2 separate regions of the Homo sapiens genome follow, and region 1 is linked to region 2. The links come from fine-mapping of genetic effects on gene expression. Tissue or cell type: lymphoblastoid cells. Region 2 holds a variant in brackets; the other region holds the start of a gene. All regions are shown on one strand. Distances are from middle to middle.

Region 1 (8,104 bases), 200 kb after region 2:
ATGGCGTGAACCCGGGAAGCGGAGCTTGCAGTGAGCCAAGATTGCGCCACTGCAGTCCGTAGTCCGGCCTGGGCGACAGAGCGAGACTCCGTCTCAAAAAAAAAAAAAATATGTTTACAGGCCAGGCGCAGTGTTCAGCAGTTTGGGAGGCCGAGGTGAGCGGATCACTTGAGGCCAGGAGTTCAAGACCAGCCTGGGCAACATGGCAAAACCCCATCTCTACTAAAAAAATACAAAAATTAGCTGGGCATGGTGACGCACGCCTATAATCCCAGCTACTTGGGAGGCTGAGGCACAAGAATCACTTGAACCCAGGAGGTGGAGGTTGGAATGAGCCACGATTGTGCCACTGCACTCGAATCTGGGCGACAGTGACACTCTGTCTTAAAAAAAAAACAATGCTTACAAACTCCACTGATGGTAGGACAACTTATACAAAGTCAGACGCACAGTCCTCTCAGACCCATGAAATCCTCAGCTTAATAATATTTTCAAGTACAGCAAGAGCATTTTTATTTAGAGAAAGTATCTCAGCCGGGCGTGGTGGCTCACGCCTATAATCCCAGCACTTTGGGAGGCCGAGGCAGGTGGATCACCTGAGGTCAAGAGTTCGAGACCAGCCTGGCCAACATGGTAAAACCCCATCTCTACTAAAAATACAAAAAAAAAAATTAGCCAGGTATGGTGGCAGGCGCCTGTAATCCCAGCTACTTGGGAGGCTGAGGCAGGAGAATCGCTTGAACCTGGGAGGTGGAGGTTGCAGTGAGCCGAGATCGTGCCATTGCACTCCAGCCTAGATAACAAAAACAAAACTCCGTCTCAAAAGAAAAAAAAAAAAAGAGAGAAAGTATCTCAGAATTTAAACATGGTCAATTAATTCTGGACAAGTCTACCCAGTTCCAAAATAGTATTTCATAAACGTCTCGCTTTTGAGTTATATGCATATTAAAACACAAACTTGTAGGAACACTTATTCCATCTTAAGGAATGATGTGCTGCCCAATTCTAAAAAATAAAAAAAAGAAAACTTGTTTTGCATTCCCATCTACTGTACCCCAGCAGACTGACAGATGAAATCACTGGGCATATCAATTAGCCTAGCCACCTTTCAGCATGACACGACTGACCAATGGATAACAAACATAGTCACTCTATGCTCTTGGTTGCCTCAGGGTCCTTAAAATTGACTTTGCTATAAATGGTAATTGAGTGGGCTTCCCCTGCAATCAGACATGAAATCTATGTCTATTTTAATATAGGTATCACTTACTTAGAAAAGTTCCAATGCTACAGAAAGAGTGACTGGGTCAACTTCACAAATGAATTTTCCAAAAAATACATTTCTATATGTAAGTATCTGAAGAAAAATTTTCCTAAAATACACCTGCCATCTTCTTGCCATCTGGGAACAAGCTAGGATGCTATTAGTCTACACAGTACCTGCAAAGCCATGGCGATCTGTACAAACCACTCTACCACCTGATTCTCAGGCAGAAGCTGCCCTTTCTGCTCCTTGAGCTTTCGGTACAAATCACCTCCTTCACAGAAGCCCATGACAATGTAGAGCAGACCATCTCCTCCTTCCCATGACTCCTTGTAGGTGACAATGTTGGGATGCTTCAACTGAGACAAGAGCTGGGCTTCCTGTTCAGCAGCTCGCCGCTCTCGGCTAGAGGCATTTCGGAGGTTCAGTTTTTTGATGACATACTAAAAACAAACCATGTATTTTTACAATGTGCAAATAAACGTAAGATTTGTGGCCTCAGAGTTATCTAAGGGCTCTCAAGAATACCCTCAAAACCAACCTTGTGGAGCCTGTCAGATAACCTATTCATTTTGTTTTTCACCAAGCACAAAATCGGGGAAAATATTTGCTATTATTGATACTTCTTATAAGTTAGATTTATAGCAGTGTAGGGCCACAAAAATTACCTTTCCCATCTGCATTTCACAATTTCATTAATGACTAAAAAAAGTGAGTTCAAGATAACATACCATTGGATCAATTATAAAACCTGTGTTAGCAATTCCTTAATATCTGGCCATACACAGTGGCTCACACCTGTAATCCCAGCACTTTGGGAGGGTGAGGCGGGTGGATCACCTGAGGTCAGGAGTTCAAGACCAGCCTGGTCAACATGGTGAAACCTGTCTCTACTAAAAATACAAAAATTAGCCCGGCGTGGTGGTGTGTACCCATAGTCCCAGCAACTCGGGAGGCTGACACAGGAGAATTGCTTGAACCTGGGAGGCAGTAGTTGCAGCAGTGAGCCAACATCGCACCACTGCACTCCAGCCTGGGAGGCAGAGCAAGACTCTGTCTCAAAAAAAATAAAAAATAAAAAAAGAAATTCCTTAATATCTAAGCTCTCCCAAAAAGGTGAATAAAATATAGCTTGACTATACATTTGCAGACAGAATAGTCTGTGGATTACGTTAGATACTCAAAGGGATCCATGGCCCCATAAGTTTAATAGTCACTGATCTTCAGCATACAAAATTATTCACACTTAAAAGAAATCAATAGCCTCTAATACCTAATACATTGCCCTCAATCATTTCAAAGACCATACAATTCATTTCTTCAACACATAGATAAATGTGTTTTGTGAAGTGTAAACTAAAGCTCAAATAACTAGCTATTGCTAGTTCCCTATCATCAGCCCCAAAATCCAATGATTCCCCCAATGCCTACTGAATAAATTTCTTATGCATGAGCTTGTGTTCCACGCAAAGCAACTAGCACCAGAGACAAGGAAGAACAGGCAATTGGGCCCTATATTTAGGGGGAACATCTCTTCTCAGCTTGCCTGGAGCAGTCCTACTGTCCTGGTGTAACTATTAATAATGCCTTTCAGTTTCAAAATTGTCCCAGTTTGTACATTATATTGTCACCCTATTAATAAACCACATTGAATAATTGGTTCATTATCCTGAGAGTAATGGGATAAAGTGTTTTAAACAGAGGAGTGACAACATCAGATTTAAATTTGAGAAAGATCACTGAGGCTGCAGTGAAAGTGATGGATTGGAGAAAAGCAAGTCAAGTGGCGGCGACCAGTTGGGAAACCGTGGCCATAGCTTTGCTAGAGACAACAGGGTGTCCTGGATTGGGGTGGTAGCAGTAGAGATGAGAGGAGGCCTATTGTCTTAGTGATAGATGAATATAATCAGTGTTGGGGTGCGTGGGGAGGCTTAAAAATGACTCCAGGTGTCCGGCTTGGGCAACTGGTGGGTTGGTGTCACTATTCACTGAAACGGAAGACATGAGAGAAGGTTTGGCGGGAAGAAAATGAGTCGAGTTTTAAGTGAATCCAGCAGTCTACAGTAGAGACGTTTGGGGCCCTTCATTCAAGGAATAATGCTTGCTAGGCGCTGTATTAAGTCCTGGGAATGCATGATACCGGCTCTCATGAGAGTATCGGGGTTGGGAGAAAGGTGTGTAGATCACGCATGCCAATTAGTACAACAAAGAAGTAGATAGGCAGAGACTGAAAATTTTTACATAAAACTTAGAATTGTAATTAAAGAAAATGAAAATTAAAAGGAAAAAAATTTAACACAACAAAGAAGTAGAAGTAGTTCTGGGCGCATATTACAGGGAGGCCAGGCCTCGTCTTGGTCTGGGACCATTTCCCTGAGGAAACGCCATCCGAGATGAGCCTCTTGCGACCACCCCCGACCTAATCTACCGGTCGGCGCCCTCGGCGCACTTCTGCCCGCCCCCGCCCCTTGCCGGGCCCCACCCCTGCAGACCTGCTTGCCGTCCCGCCGGTGCTTCACAAGCGTCACCTCTCCATAGCTCCCCTTGCCCACGACCCGCAGGTAGCAGTAGGCGGCCAGGGGCATGTTCCCAGCGCTGGCCCAGAGTCGGGATGCGGCGGCAGCGGCGGGTAGGGCAGCGGGCGGCAACAAGAAGCTCGGTTCATGCCCGAGAGGGGGCAGTGGGGGCGGCTGTTGAGGCAGCCGGGCCCGGGCGGGATTGCTGGGGCCCGGCCCGCGACGACGCCGCTGCCATAGCGATCCGGGCCGGGAGCAGTTCTGCGCATGCTCCTGCGTCCCCAAAGGACGGCCATAGAGCGGACGCCACGAGCGGCCAGAGAGGTTCCGCAGCCCCGGGAGGACCCGCCATAGAGCAGAGGCTCCAGGAGGCCAGAGCGACTCCGCCAGGCTCCGCGCACTTTCTGTGCGTCCGTTCCACCGTCCGGATCCCCGCCACAACAGAGTCAGGGAAAGCTTCCTCTTTTTGTGCACTTGTTTGTCCTAAGGCCGTTACAAGTATTGTTCGTTCATTCTGCAAATATTTGTTGACCGCCTATGTGCCAGGCCAACAAAGTCCCTGCCCTCCTGGAGCTCATGTTCTAATGACTGGGTGACAGACTCTCTACCAGTAACATTTGCTGTATCCGCTTTATCACATGCCGTCTCTGCATCCAGCAATCCATCCTATTTTTTGATACATTCAAAGTAAATTATCAGTACCTTTCATCCCTAAAAACTCGCCTGCTAATTGAGAACTACAAAGACTCCTCAGCATTTAACGACTACCCTAACCACTGCACTAAGAGACTTGACTAAACTCTAACATGGCATCATGCTAAGTTAACAGCCTAAGGGCGGATCTCTAGGTGGGCCTAGGCCCCTTTAAAATGCCTGCCCAAGAAAGCTCAGGGGTGCCAAAAGAATTCACCATTTGTTCCAGCCAAAGCCTCCCTTTCCCAGAGCGCTTCCTTTTTTTCCTTTTTTTTTTTTTTTTTTTTTTTTGAGACAGGGTCTCGCCCTGCCACCCAGCTTGGAGTGCAGTGGTGCAATGGTGCTCACTGCTGCCTAGACTTCCTGGGCTCAAGCCATCCTCCCAACTACAGGCACACACGTCCATGCCTGGCTAATCCTATTTTATTTTTTTTCAGAGACAGGGTGTCACTATGTTCCCCAGACCGGTCTTGAACTCCTCGGCTCAAGCAATTCACCCACGTTGGCCTCCCAAAATGCCGTTATTACAGGTGTGCGCCATCGTGCCTGGCCTCTTTCCTTTTTATGGCCAAATAATATTCCATTATATGTATACACCACAATTTGTTTATCCATTCATGCAGTCATGGACACGGATAGCTTCCATCTTTTGGCTATTGTGAATAATTCGGCTATGAACATGGGTGTACGAATATCTGTTTGAGTCCCTGCTTTCTTTTTAATTCATTTGGGTATACACTCAGAAGTGAAATTGCTGGATCATATGCTAATTCTAGTTTAATGTATTGAGAAACCACCACACCATTTTTTACAGCAAGCTGAACCATTTTACATTCCCATTAGCAATCCACAGGGGTTCAAATTTCTCCTCATCCTTGATATATATCTTGATAGGAGATTTGGGTGTATGAATTTGTCAAAATTATCTAATGGTACATTTAGTATTTGCACATTTTACTCAAAGCAATTTCATCTTCACTAGAAAACCAAACAAAAAGAACCATAAATAAAGATTGAACTCTAGTTAATGATATTATTAAAGATAAACAAAGCCAGGCATTAAAATGATGAAAATAGATTTTATTCAGTAACTACTGACAGTAGGGGAAGCAGCTGAACTCCATTCCATTTGCGCAGGGGTGATTGGGCATTCCAAAGGAAGAATAAGGGAGTAGGCAGGGGAGCATGCAGGGGCTCACTTAGAGTCTGGGAAGTGAAAAATTAAAAGGAGTGCTTAGCGTAAATGTGATTAGGCCAACTGTGTCTGCTAGCTGGCAATTAGGGAAGTTAGGATTCTATTCTCCCACATAGACTGGGAGACATGAGCCCTACCTTTATGATGATTACATTCCAAAGGAATGGATTTCAGGTCCTTGAGAAAGACATTCCTAGGTTGTAGGAAATACATAGGTATATATCTCAGAGGGACAGAGGAAGGATTTGTAATTGTAGCTTTTTAAAGTTAGTGCTCTAGAGGCCACACACTATGACTCACACCTAATCCCAGCACTTTGAGAGGCCAAGGTGGGAGGATCACTTGAGACCAGCCTACGAAACACAGTGAGACCCCCTTCTCTACAAAAAATTTTTAAAATTAGCTGGGTGTGGTGGCGCATGCCTGTAGTCCCAGCTACCTGGGAGGCTGAGGTGGGAGAATCAGTTGAGCCTCGGAGGTTGAGGCTGCAGTGAGCCATGATCCTGCCACTGCACTCCAGCTGAGTGACAGAGTGAGACTCTGTCTCAAAATAAATAAATTTTTAAAAAGGAAGGATGTTCTGACATGCTACAACATGGACGACCCCTGAGGACATTATGCTAAACAAAATAAGGCAGTCACAGAGGACAAAAGTATGATTTCGCTTATGTGAGGTACCTGTAGTAGTCAAAGTCATAGATTCAGAAAGTAGAATGGTGGTTGCCAGTTGTTGGAGAGAGGAGGGAATTGGTGGTTGGTGTTTAATGGGTGCAGAGTTTTAGCTGGGGAAAATGAAAAAGTCCTGGAGATGGATGGTGGTGATGGATGCAAAACATGAATGTACTTATGCCACCGAACTGTATTCTTAAAAATGGTTAAATAATAAATTTTATGTTTTGTATATTTTACCACAATAAAAAATTATGGCACACTGCTCCTGTAATCCCAGCTACTCAGGAGGCCGAGGCATGAGAATCACGTGAACCCGGGAGGCGGAGATTGCATTGGGCCAAGATCATGTCACTGCACTCCAGCCTGGGCGACAGAGCAATACTCCTTCTAAAAAAAAAAAAAAAAAAAAAAACCTATCATTCATTCTACAGACATTTAGCAAGGGTCTACTAGCCTGGACCTGGAGGACAACTATGAACAAGACAGACAAGGGCCTGCCCATGTGGGGCTTACTGTCGAAGAGGGAGACGGCCATGCATACTAACAAGCTACCCTTGCCAACTGAGGTCAGTACTGTTCAGAAAAGCCGCCAGGCCCAGCCTGGCCATCCAGGAGAGGTTGCCCCAAGCAAGCACCGCATGAGTGGAAGTTTAAACAAAAACTTTTTCAGGCAGAGGAGCAACATGTGCTAAGATCCAGTGGATTCATTTTGTGACTTTACCTCCACACCGCAATGTGAACTCCCTGAGGACGAGGCCAGGCCTGTCTGCTTCAACACCCTAAACCCAGCAGGTATAAATGAAGGAATTGCCGCTTGCTGAATGAATGAATGGAGAAGCACCTGCCTACCTGGATCTAAAAGAAGTCTCTGCAGTTGAAGCTGAGAGACTCAGAGGGGCCATGGGCTAGGTGACATAGAGGGGTCAGCAGGGGCCATACCACTCAGGATAGGGTGTGCGAGACAGGGAAAGGCCTGCGGCAGACTGACCTTTCTAAATGGTGACTCTGGCTGCTGCCTGGAGCAGAGCAGAAGGAGGAGATGAGCCGTCTAAATGAGGGATGAGGGCAGCTTGAACTAGGTGGTGACGGGGGATGGGGAGAGAAGTTAATGGATTAGAGGGATATTCAGAGGGTGGGAGGTGGGGTAGGTGGTCAAGGAGACTGAGGCACCCAGGATGCCACCCAGCCTTCTGGCTTGGATGGCCAACTAGATGGCGGTGGCCTTGACTGGAGTGGACAACAGGGGGAAGATCTGGCTTAGTAACGGGGTGTGGGGAGGAGGAGACAAAGGTCAGGAGTTCAGTTTGGACATACCAGATGGAGGGGCTGTGGGCACATCAAGCAGACAGTTGGCTGTGTGTGGGTGGCGCTCAGAGCAGGTCTGGGCCCATGTGCTGTCCCACCGGCACCAGCAGCACAGCTACACTCCCCATTCTCAATCCTCAGCAACCATAGCTGCTTTCTGTCCACCCTGGCCCCCACCTCCCACATGCATATGGTGGGCCAACGTCTCTTTCTCTGTACCATGAGGATAATAGTAACAATAATATCTGTCTCTTGTGGGGAGTTGTGAGCAGTAAATGAATTCGGACGTGATGCTAAGAAGCATGACAGGCACAGGTCATAGTTAGCTCTCCCCATCTCCTGTCCACCCTCCCCCTGTGCAAACATGCTTCTAGCACTTTACATGGACCAGGCTTGGTGCTAGCCATCTCTCAACAGCCCAGTCTTGAACTCATCACACCCTTGCTTAAAATATCTTAA
Region 2 (8,104 bases):
TTCAACTAGTTCCCTATTGATGGGTATCTATGTTGTTTCCCAATGTTTGCTCTTCTGCTGACGCTAAATAATGCTGAAATAAATAATTTAAGACATATCAATTTGCACGTAGGTGAATACATCTGAAGCATAAATTTCTAGAACTATAAAAGCTGGGTTAAAGGGTATGTATACACTTTTTAAATTTTTGTAGGTATTATCAAACTGCCTTCCATAAAGGGTGTCCTAATTCACAGACTACCCACAAAGTAGGTAAATACCATTTCCTCATGCTCTTGTCAACTAGTGAGAAATGTCTTCTGGATCTTTGACAATTTGATAGGTAATCTCAAAAAAAAAAAAAAAAGAAAAAAGAAAAAAAGAAAAATGAAAAAGAAAAGAAGAAAAGCACCTGGGTAGCTTTAACTAGCATTTCTCTAATGGCCAAGGTTGGGTATATTTTCTTTTCTTTTCTTTTTTGATCTCAGCTCACCGCAGCCTCTGCCTCCCAGGTTCAAGCAATTATCCTGCCTCAGCCTCCCGAGTAGCTGGGATTACAGGCGTGTGCCACCATGCCTGGCTAATTTTTGTGTTTTTTTTTTTTTTTTTTTTTTAGTAGAAATGGGGTTTCACCATGTTGGCCAGGCTGGTCTCGAACTTCTGACCTCAGATGATCCGCCTCCCTCAGCCTCCCAAACTGCTGGGATTACAGGTGTGAACCACCGTGCCCAGCCGGGTATATTTTCATTTGTTTAAGAATCACTGGTAGTTTCTTTTTTTTTAAGATGGAGTCTCGCTCTGTCACTCAGGTTGGAGCGCAGTGGTGCGATTCTGGCTCACTGCAACCTCTGCCTCCTGGGTTCAAGTGATTCTCCTGCTTCAGTCTCCCAGGTAGCTAGGACTATAGATGCCTACCATCATGTCCAGCTAATTTTTGTAGTTTTAGTACAGACAGGGTTTCACCATGTCGGCCAGGCTAGTCTTCGACTCCTGACCTCAGGTGATCCACCCACCTTGGCCTCCCAAAGTGCTGGCATTACAGGTGTGAGTCATCACACTGGGCCCTAGTAATTTATTTCTGCTCTCCTTTATTTTCTTTGCCTATTTCCCTGCTGGATGTTGATCTTTATCTAATTGCTTTATAGGAGCTCTTCATCTATGAGGAAAATCAGATCTTTGTCTATGATAAACATTGCAAATATTTTCTCAAGATTGTCATTTTTGTTTTTGCCAGTTTTGGTCATATAGATATTTTCCATTTTTATACAGCTGAATTTATCAGTATTTTATTGTATGAGTTCTGGCTTTTATGTCAGAGATTAACAAAATTTCTTTCTCATGGTTTCTTTTGGTATCTTTGTTGTTTAATTTTATGTTTATTTAAATTTATAATTCATCTGGAAATCTATCCTGAAGTTAAGATGTGGGATATGGCTACAATTTTATTTTTCCAAATGGTTATTGAATTTCCAAACACCATTTGGAGAAAAATACTTCTTTCCCCACTTACCTGATATGCCACTTTTACCATATATTTGCTAAACTTTCTATTTTGTTCAAATAACCTGTTTACTCATATATCATATAGTTTTAATTATTGTAGTGCTATAATGTTTTAATATCTGGTAAGGATAGATCCCCTTTCACTATACTTTTCAGAATTTTCCTGAGTTCCTTTTTCTTTTTTTGAGACAGGGTCTCACTTTGTTGCCCAGCCTGGAGTGCAGTGGTGAGATGACAGCTGCTCACTGCAGCCTCAACCTCCTGGGCTCAAGCGATCCTCACACCTCAGCCCCCTACTCCGGGTAGCTGGGACTACAGACAAGTGCCACTCAGCTAATTTCTGTACTTTTTGTAGAAATGAGGTTTTGCCATCTTGCCCAGGCTGGTCTCAAACTCCTAGGCTCAAGTGATCCACCCACCTCGGCCTCCCAAAGTGCTGGGATTGATAACAGGAGTGAGCCACTGCACCCGATTCTAAGTTTCTTTTTCAATATGATTTTTTTTTTTTTTTTAGATGGAGTCTTGCTCTGTTTCCCAGGATGGAGTGCAGTGGCGCGATCTCGGTTCATTGCAAGCTCCGCCTCCCCGGTTCACCCCCTTCTCCTGCCTCAGCCTCCCAAGTAGCTGGGACTACAGGCGCCCGCCGCCATGCTCGGCTAACTTTTTGTATTTTTAGTAAAGATGGGGTTTCACCATGTTAATGAGGATGGTCCTGATCTCCTGACCTCGTGATCCGCCCGCCTTGGCTTCCCAAAGTGCTGGGATTACAGGCATGAGCCACCGCGCCCGGCCTTCAATATGATTTTTAAAATGAGTTCACATAGTATCAACTTCCTCACAAGCAAATTCCCACTGGTATATCTAATGGGATCATATTAAAGATTAATTTAGGGAGGATGGACATCTTTATGACATTGAAACCTACCTAGGCATATGGTACTGCTTTGCAATTTGTTCAAGCATTCATTCAATAGCATTTTAAAACTTTTTTCATACAGATGTGGCATATCTTGTTAAGTTTATCTAAGGTATTTTATTAGTACTGAATCTTTTAAGATAATAGGTTTGTTATTTATTTATATTCAATCATCTCACTTCTCTTACTGTTTGCCATGATTTCTTAGTTGATGCTCTTGAATTTTCACCTCCTTACTTTTCTTATTTTAGACTTCTGTTTCTTCTAACTCCACTGGCTAGTACCTCTAGAACAATGTTAAATAAGTGTGATAAGGACATCCCTATTTTGTTTCTTTTCTTTTTTTGTTTTTTGTTTGAGACGGAGTCTCACTCTGTCGCTAGGCTGCAGTGTAGTGACTCGATCTTGGCTCACTGCAACCTCCACCTCCCAAGTTCAAGTGATTCTTTTGCCTCAGCCTCCCCAGTAGCTGGGATTAAAGGCACCCACCACCACGCCCACATCAGCTAATTTTTGTATTTTTAGTAGAGACAGAGTTTCACCATGCTGACCAGGCTGGTCTCGAATTCCTGACCTCAGGTGATCCGCCCTCCTTGGCCTCTCATAGTGCTGGAATTACAGGCATGAGCCATCGCACCCAGCCAGAACATCCCTATTTTGCTCTTGACCTTAACAGGAATGTTCATAGCTAACAACTTACTAAACATGTATATGAAAAACAGGTCAGAAACATTTCCAAAGCTTAAAATAGCTACAATTACTATCACTGCTTTGAACTTACACAGCACTTTTATTTACATAATTCAAAGGCCTTTTAATTCAGAAAAGGGATAATTACAATTTTCCATATTTTATAGAAGGAAAAATAGACATTAGGAAAAAATAATAATTCTGCTTACAACCAAAGAGTAAAAGTGATTGGTGGCTTTGGAATGGAGGTGGTATCTCTGTGTCCTGACTTGGAGCTCCTACCAAGCCCCCAAAAGACAGGGAAAAGATGAAAGTTTAGAAAACTTCATTTAATAAAGTATAAAAAAATTATCAAGACCTGCTGGATTTTGATTGGAATTGGAACGAACCAATAGATCAATTTGGGGGGAACTGGCATCTTTTTAATATTGAATTTTCCAGCTATAAATATGATGGATAACTTTCATTTACTTATGTCTTCAATTTCTCAATAATTTTCTTATAGTTGTGTGTGTGTGCGCACATGTGTGCACATGCGTGTGCAGGTGCCCTACACATCTTTGTTTCTTCGTTTTTTTTTTTTTTGGTAGAGTTTCCTTCTGTTGTCCAGGCTGGTCTTGAACTCCTGGTGTCAAGCGACTCTCCCATCTTGGCCTCTCAAAGTGTTGGGACTACAGGCATGAGCTACCACGTTGGCTATCTTTTAAAGATTTATTCCTGGCTGGGTGCCATGGCTCATGCCTGTAATCTCAGCACTTTGGGAGGCCGAGGCAGGCGCCTCACGAGGTCAAGAGATTGAGACCATCCTGGTCAACATGGTGAAATGCTGTCTCTACTAAATATACAAAAATTAGCTGGGCATGGTGGCACACGCCTGTGGTCCCAGCTGCTCGGGAGGCTGAGGCAGGAGAATCGCTTGAACCCAGGAGGTGGAGGTTGCAGTGAGCCGAGATTGTGCCACTGCACTGCAGCCTGGACGACAGAACGAGACACTGTCTCCAAAAAAAAAAAAAAAAAAGATTGGCCAGGCGTGGTGGCTCACGTCTGTAATCCCAGCACTTTGGGAGACTGAGGAAGGTGGATCACGAGGTCAGGAGATCAAGGCCATCCTGGCCAACATGGTGAAACCCCGTCTCTACTAAAATACAAACAATTATCCTGGCATGGTGGCGCATGCCTGTAGTCCCAGCTACTCAGGAGGCTGAGGCAGGGGAATAGCTTGAACCCAGGAGGTGGAGGTTGCGGTGAACCGAGATTGCACCATTGCACTCCAGCCTGGGCAACAAGAGCGAAACTCCATCTCAAAAAAAAAAAAAAAAAAAAAAAAAAGATTTATTCCTAGGTATTGAATGCAAATGGTAATAATTTTCTAATTGCTCACTGATGGGATACAGATACAGAAATAGAAATATTGGGGCTAGGTAAGGTAGCTCATGCCTATAATCCCAGCACTTTCGGGGAGGCTGAGCAGGGAGGATGCTTGAGGCCAGGAGTTTGAGACCAGCCTGAGCAAGAGGGATACCTCATCTCCCCAAAAAAAAAAAAAAAAAAAAAAAAAAAAAAAATTAGCTGGGAGTGGTGGTACATCCCTATAGTCCCAGCTTCTTGGAAGGCTGAGATGGGAGGATTGCTTGCGCCCAGGAGTTGGAGGCTGCAGTGAGTTATGATTGTACCATTGCACTCCAGTTTGGATAACAAAGCGAGATCTTGTCTCAAACAAAACAAAAAAAACTTCATATTTTCATTTACTAATTTTAATAGTTTATCTGAATATCTCTTGGATTTTCTACATACCTAATATTTTT[GA/G]AAAAAAAAAAAAAGGCCCTTTTGTTTTTCCTTTCAAATCTTTAGATCTTTTATCTTCCTTGCCTTACTGAGGACAGTTTTTAAATTAATGAAACGTTATAAAAATCTACTGTGAAGGGAACAAAACCTGCAAATAAATTAGGAATCGGCATGTTTCAAGAGCCCAGGTTCCTGGAAATTTTATCACCTAAGGGGTTAAGGGTAGAGGTACTGTCTGCCACATGTGGCCATCTGATTACTGTTTAAGTTCTTTTTTTTTTTGAGACGGAGTCTCACCCTGTCACTCAGGCTGGAATCCAGTAGAGTGATCTCAGCGCACTGCAACCTCTCCCTCACAGGTTCTAGCGATTCTCCTCCCTCAGCCTCTGAGTAGCCGGGATTACAGGAATGCACCACCACAGCTGGCTAATTTTTTTTTGTATTTTTAGTAGAGATGGGGTTTTACCATGTTGGCCAGGCTGGTCTTGAACTCCTGATCTCAAGTGATCCACCTGCCTCAGCCTCCCAAAGTGCTGGGATTATAGGCGTGAGCCATTGTGCCCAGCTTGATTACTGTTTAAGTAAATGAAAACAATTCTTCAACGAAACTGAAAAAAGAACATAACCGTTGGAAAAACAGGATTGTCTCCTTTGTATGTAACAGAAGATGAAAAAATGATACACCTCATCTAATTATCTTCAAAACTTCTATTTCAGAGACACAAAAAAGTGCAAAATATGATTTACATTTAATAGTGGTTAGAGTTAATACAATGAAATTATAAATTCTCTAAAGCTTATATAACAAAACCCTTTTTCCTTGGAGGCTGGGGACAGTGAATTCCACAAGCTAGGCTGAAATCCCACTTTGTGATTACTAGATGCATTTTCTTTTGGGTTTTATCTCAAGATGAAGTTACTTATATTTCATTATATGCCTGTTGTCCTACCTGATATTACTGGCACCTCCTTTAATTCTCAAAAGTGTGCCAGCTAGCTGTAGACTAACTAAAGAAGAATTAGGAAAACCTAGGTTTTAGTTCTGGCCCACTCCCTGGGTAGTAACTTCACCTTTCTGACAATATCAGCATCTTTCTTCCAGGGTCATGTTGAAAATTAAATGAGATCCTGGATATAAAACTGGTAGATAAACTGTAGAATGCAACACATTTTCTTTCTTTCTTTTTTTTTTTTGTTACATAGAGTCTCTTGCTCTGTCTCCAGCCACAGGCTGGAGTGCAGTGGCTTGATCTCAGCTCACTGCAACCTCCACCTCTCGGGTTCAAACAATTCTCTTGCCTCAGCCTCTCTAGTAGCTGGGATTACAGGTGCACACCACCACGCCCGGCTAATTTTTGTATTTTTAGTAAAGATGGGGTTTCACCACGTTGGCCAGGCTGGTCTCTTAACTCCTAATCTCAGGTGATCTGCCTGCCTCAACCTCCCAAAGTACTGGGATTACAGGCATGAGCCACCATGCCCGGCCAGAATGTAACACATTCTAACAGGCATCTTTAGAAAGAAATTACTCCAAGTTATGTCAGTGAATATGGAGGAGTAGTGAGCTCTAAGGGCCATTACTTCACAGAAACAGTGAAAAAAGCAGAATAAACTTTATTGGAATTCTGTAAGATAGTCAAAGGTTTACAGCAACCAAGCAAATGCTTAATTAAGAAAAAAAGTGACTGAAACTTGGCAGGAAAGCTCTGTGGCATTTTAACTTACCCTCACTCCATTCCTTACTTTCTGTCTCAGTGGCAGCCTTGAAGATGGCAGCCTCTATTCCTGGTGTAAGATTGTGGTGATAGAGGAAGCAAAACAGCTCCATGCTCCAAGAACTGTGGTCATCTGTTTTGACCTGTCAGGCAGCTTTCTAAACACTAATGCAAAGTGCTTGCCTTTATTGTGCTTAGCTTGGAATTCCCTTGGTGGAGAAGTGTCTAGGTTTTTTTGTCAAAAACATTTTGTCTTAGTTTGTTTGTGCTGCTATAACAGAATACCACAGACTGGGTAATTTATAAAGAACAGTTTTCTCACAGTTCTGGAGGCTGGAAAGTCCAAGATAAAGGTGCCAGCATCTGGCAAGGGCTTTCTTGCTATGTCATCATATTTCAGAAGGCAGAGGGCAAGAGTGTAAGAGACAGCAAACCCATTCAGACAGAGCAGACCCATTTACATGAGCCCTTTTTATAAAAGCAATATTGTATTCACGAGGACAAGCCCTCATGACCTAAACATCTCCTAAAAGTCCCCACTTCCCAACACTGTTGCACTAGGGATTACACTTTAAGTCATGAATTTCGAAGGGGGCACAAACATTCAAATCACAGCACATTTAAAGTCAAATGAACCAGCTGTTGCCGGCTGGGGCAAAGGGTATCAGTCAGGACCAACAGTAGATATGACAAAAGGCCTCAGAGGAAAAGATGAGGAGTGAGATGCTTTGGCCAATAAGGGTTTTGAAAAGTTTCCACACATTCCTGGGAGCCTAGAAGGCCACACACATGCCAACAATAGTGTACATGCTCAGAAAGGACCTAAGAAGGCCCTAAGATCTCATTTCTGGCTGACCTTCAAGCTCTGCACAAGTAGGAAGTAAAGGCAAAGCAGAGTTGTAATCTGCATGGCTGAGTGTTGAAGGTGTGCTCCACCATACGCAGAGAAGTCAGCAGTGAAGACTGGGAGTTTTATGGTTTTATTGGCTCCACGTATTTACGAAAACCTCTGTCAAATCACTGGCTGATCACTAAGCTTATAGAACAGAGACTGTAGTAACCATATACAACAACAACAAAAATCTTTTATTTTTTGAGACAGGGTCTCACTCTGTTGCCCAGGCTGGAGTGCAGTGGCATGATCATGGCTCACTGCAGCCTCGACCTCCCTGGGCTCAAGTGATCCTACCACCTCAGCCTCCTGAGTAGCTGGGACCATGGATATAGACCACCACACCTGGATAATTTCTGTATTTTTTTGTAGAGACAGGGTTTCGCCATCTTGCCCAGGCTGGTCTCGAACTCCTGGGCTCAAGCGACCTGCCCATGTCAGCCTCCCAAAGTGCTGGGATTAAAGGTGTGAGCCACTGTGCCCAGCCAAAAATACAATCTTTAAAACAAACCAAACAAACAAACAAACAAACAAACGTTTAGAAGAGTCACTGAACAAACAACCATAACCTATAATAAGTATTAAGAACAAAGCCTGAGGATGGGGAGAATCTGATTTCCAGAG

Alleles and levels. Positions count from the first base shown, and alleles are read on the strand shown. Sizes are in standard deviations (SD) of each study's normalised expression.
In carriers of allele G in region 2, the expression in lymphoblastoid cells of the gene that starts at base 4,043 in region 1 tends to be higher than with GA alone (large effect, 1.5 SD a copy in GEUVADIS).

Evidence for each region. PIP is the estimated chance that this variant, and not a neighbour inherited with it, causes the effect.
Region 1: NEK4 starts here. The variant in region 2 is fine-mapped to the expression of NEK4 in lymphoblastoid cells (GEUVADIS, PIP 0.95).

Annotation. Positions count from the first base shown.
Region 1 is chr3:52,766,898-52,775,001 of GRCh38, forward strand. It overlaps NEK4 (NIMA related kinase 4), which reads right to left and starts at 4,043. Exons shown (of 16, transcript NM_003157.6): 1 at 3,757-4,043; 2 at 1,441-1,707. The coding sequence starts at 3,849. RefSeq lists enhancers at 3,820-4,337, 4,125-4,174 and a silencer at 3,855-3,964.
Region 2 is chr3:52,567,236-52,575,339 of GRCh38, forward strand. The region is part of intron 24 of PBRM1 (polybromo 1); the gene reads right to left. Among named protein-coding and RNA genes, the nearest start is that of UQCC5, 35 kb to the left of the region's middle. RefSeq lists a silencer at 5,065-5,265. The variant GA/G (reference allele first, on the strand shown) is at 4,894.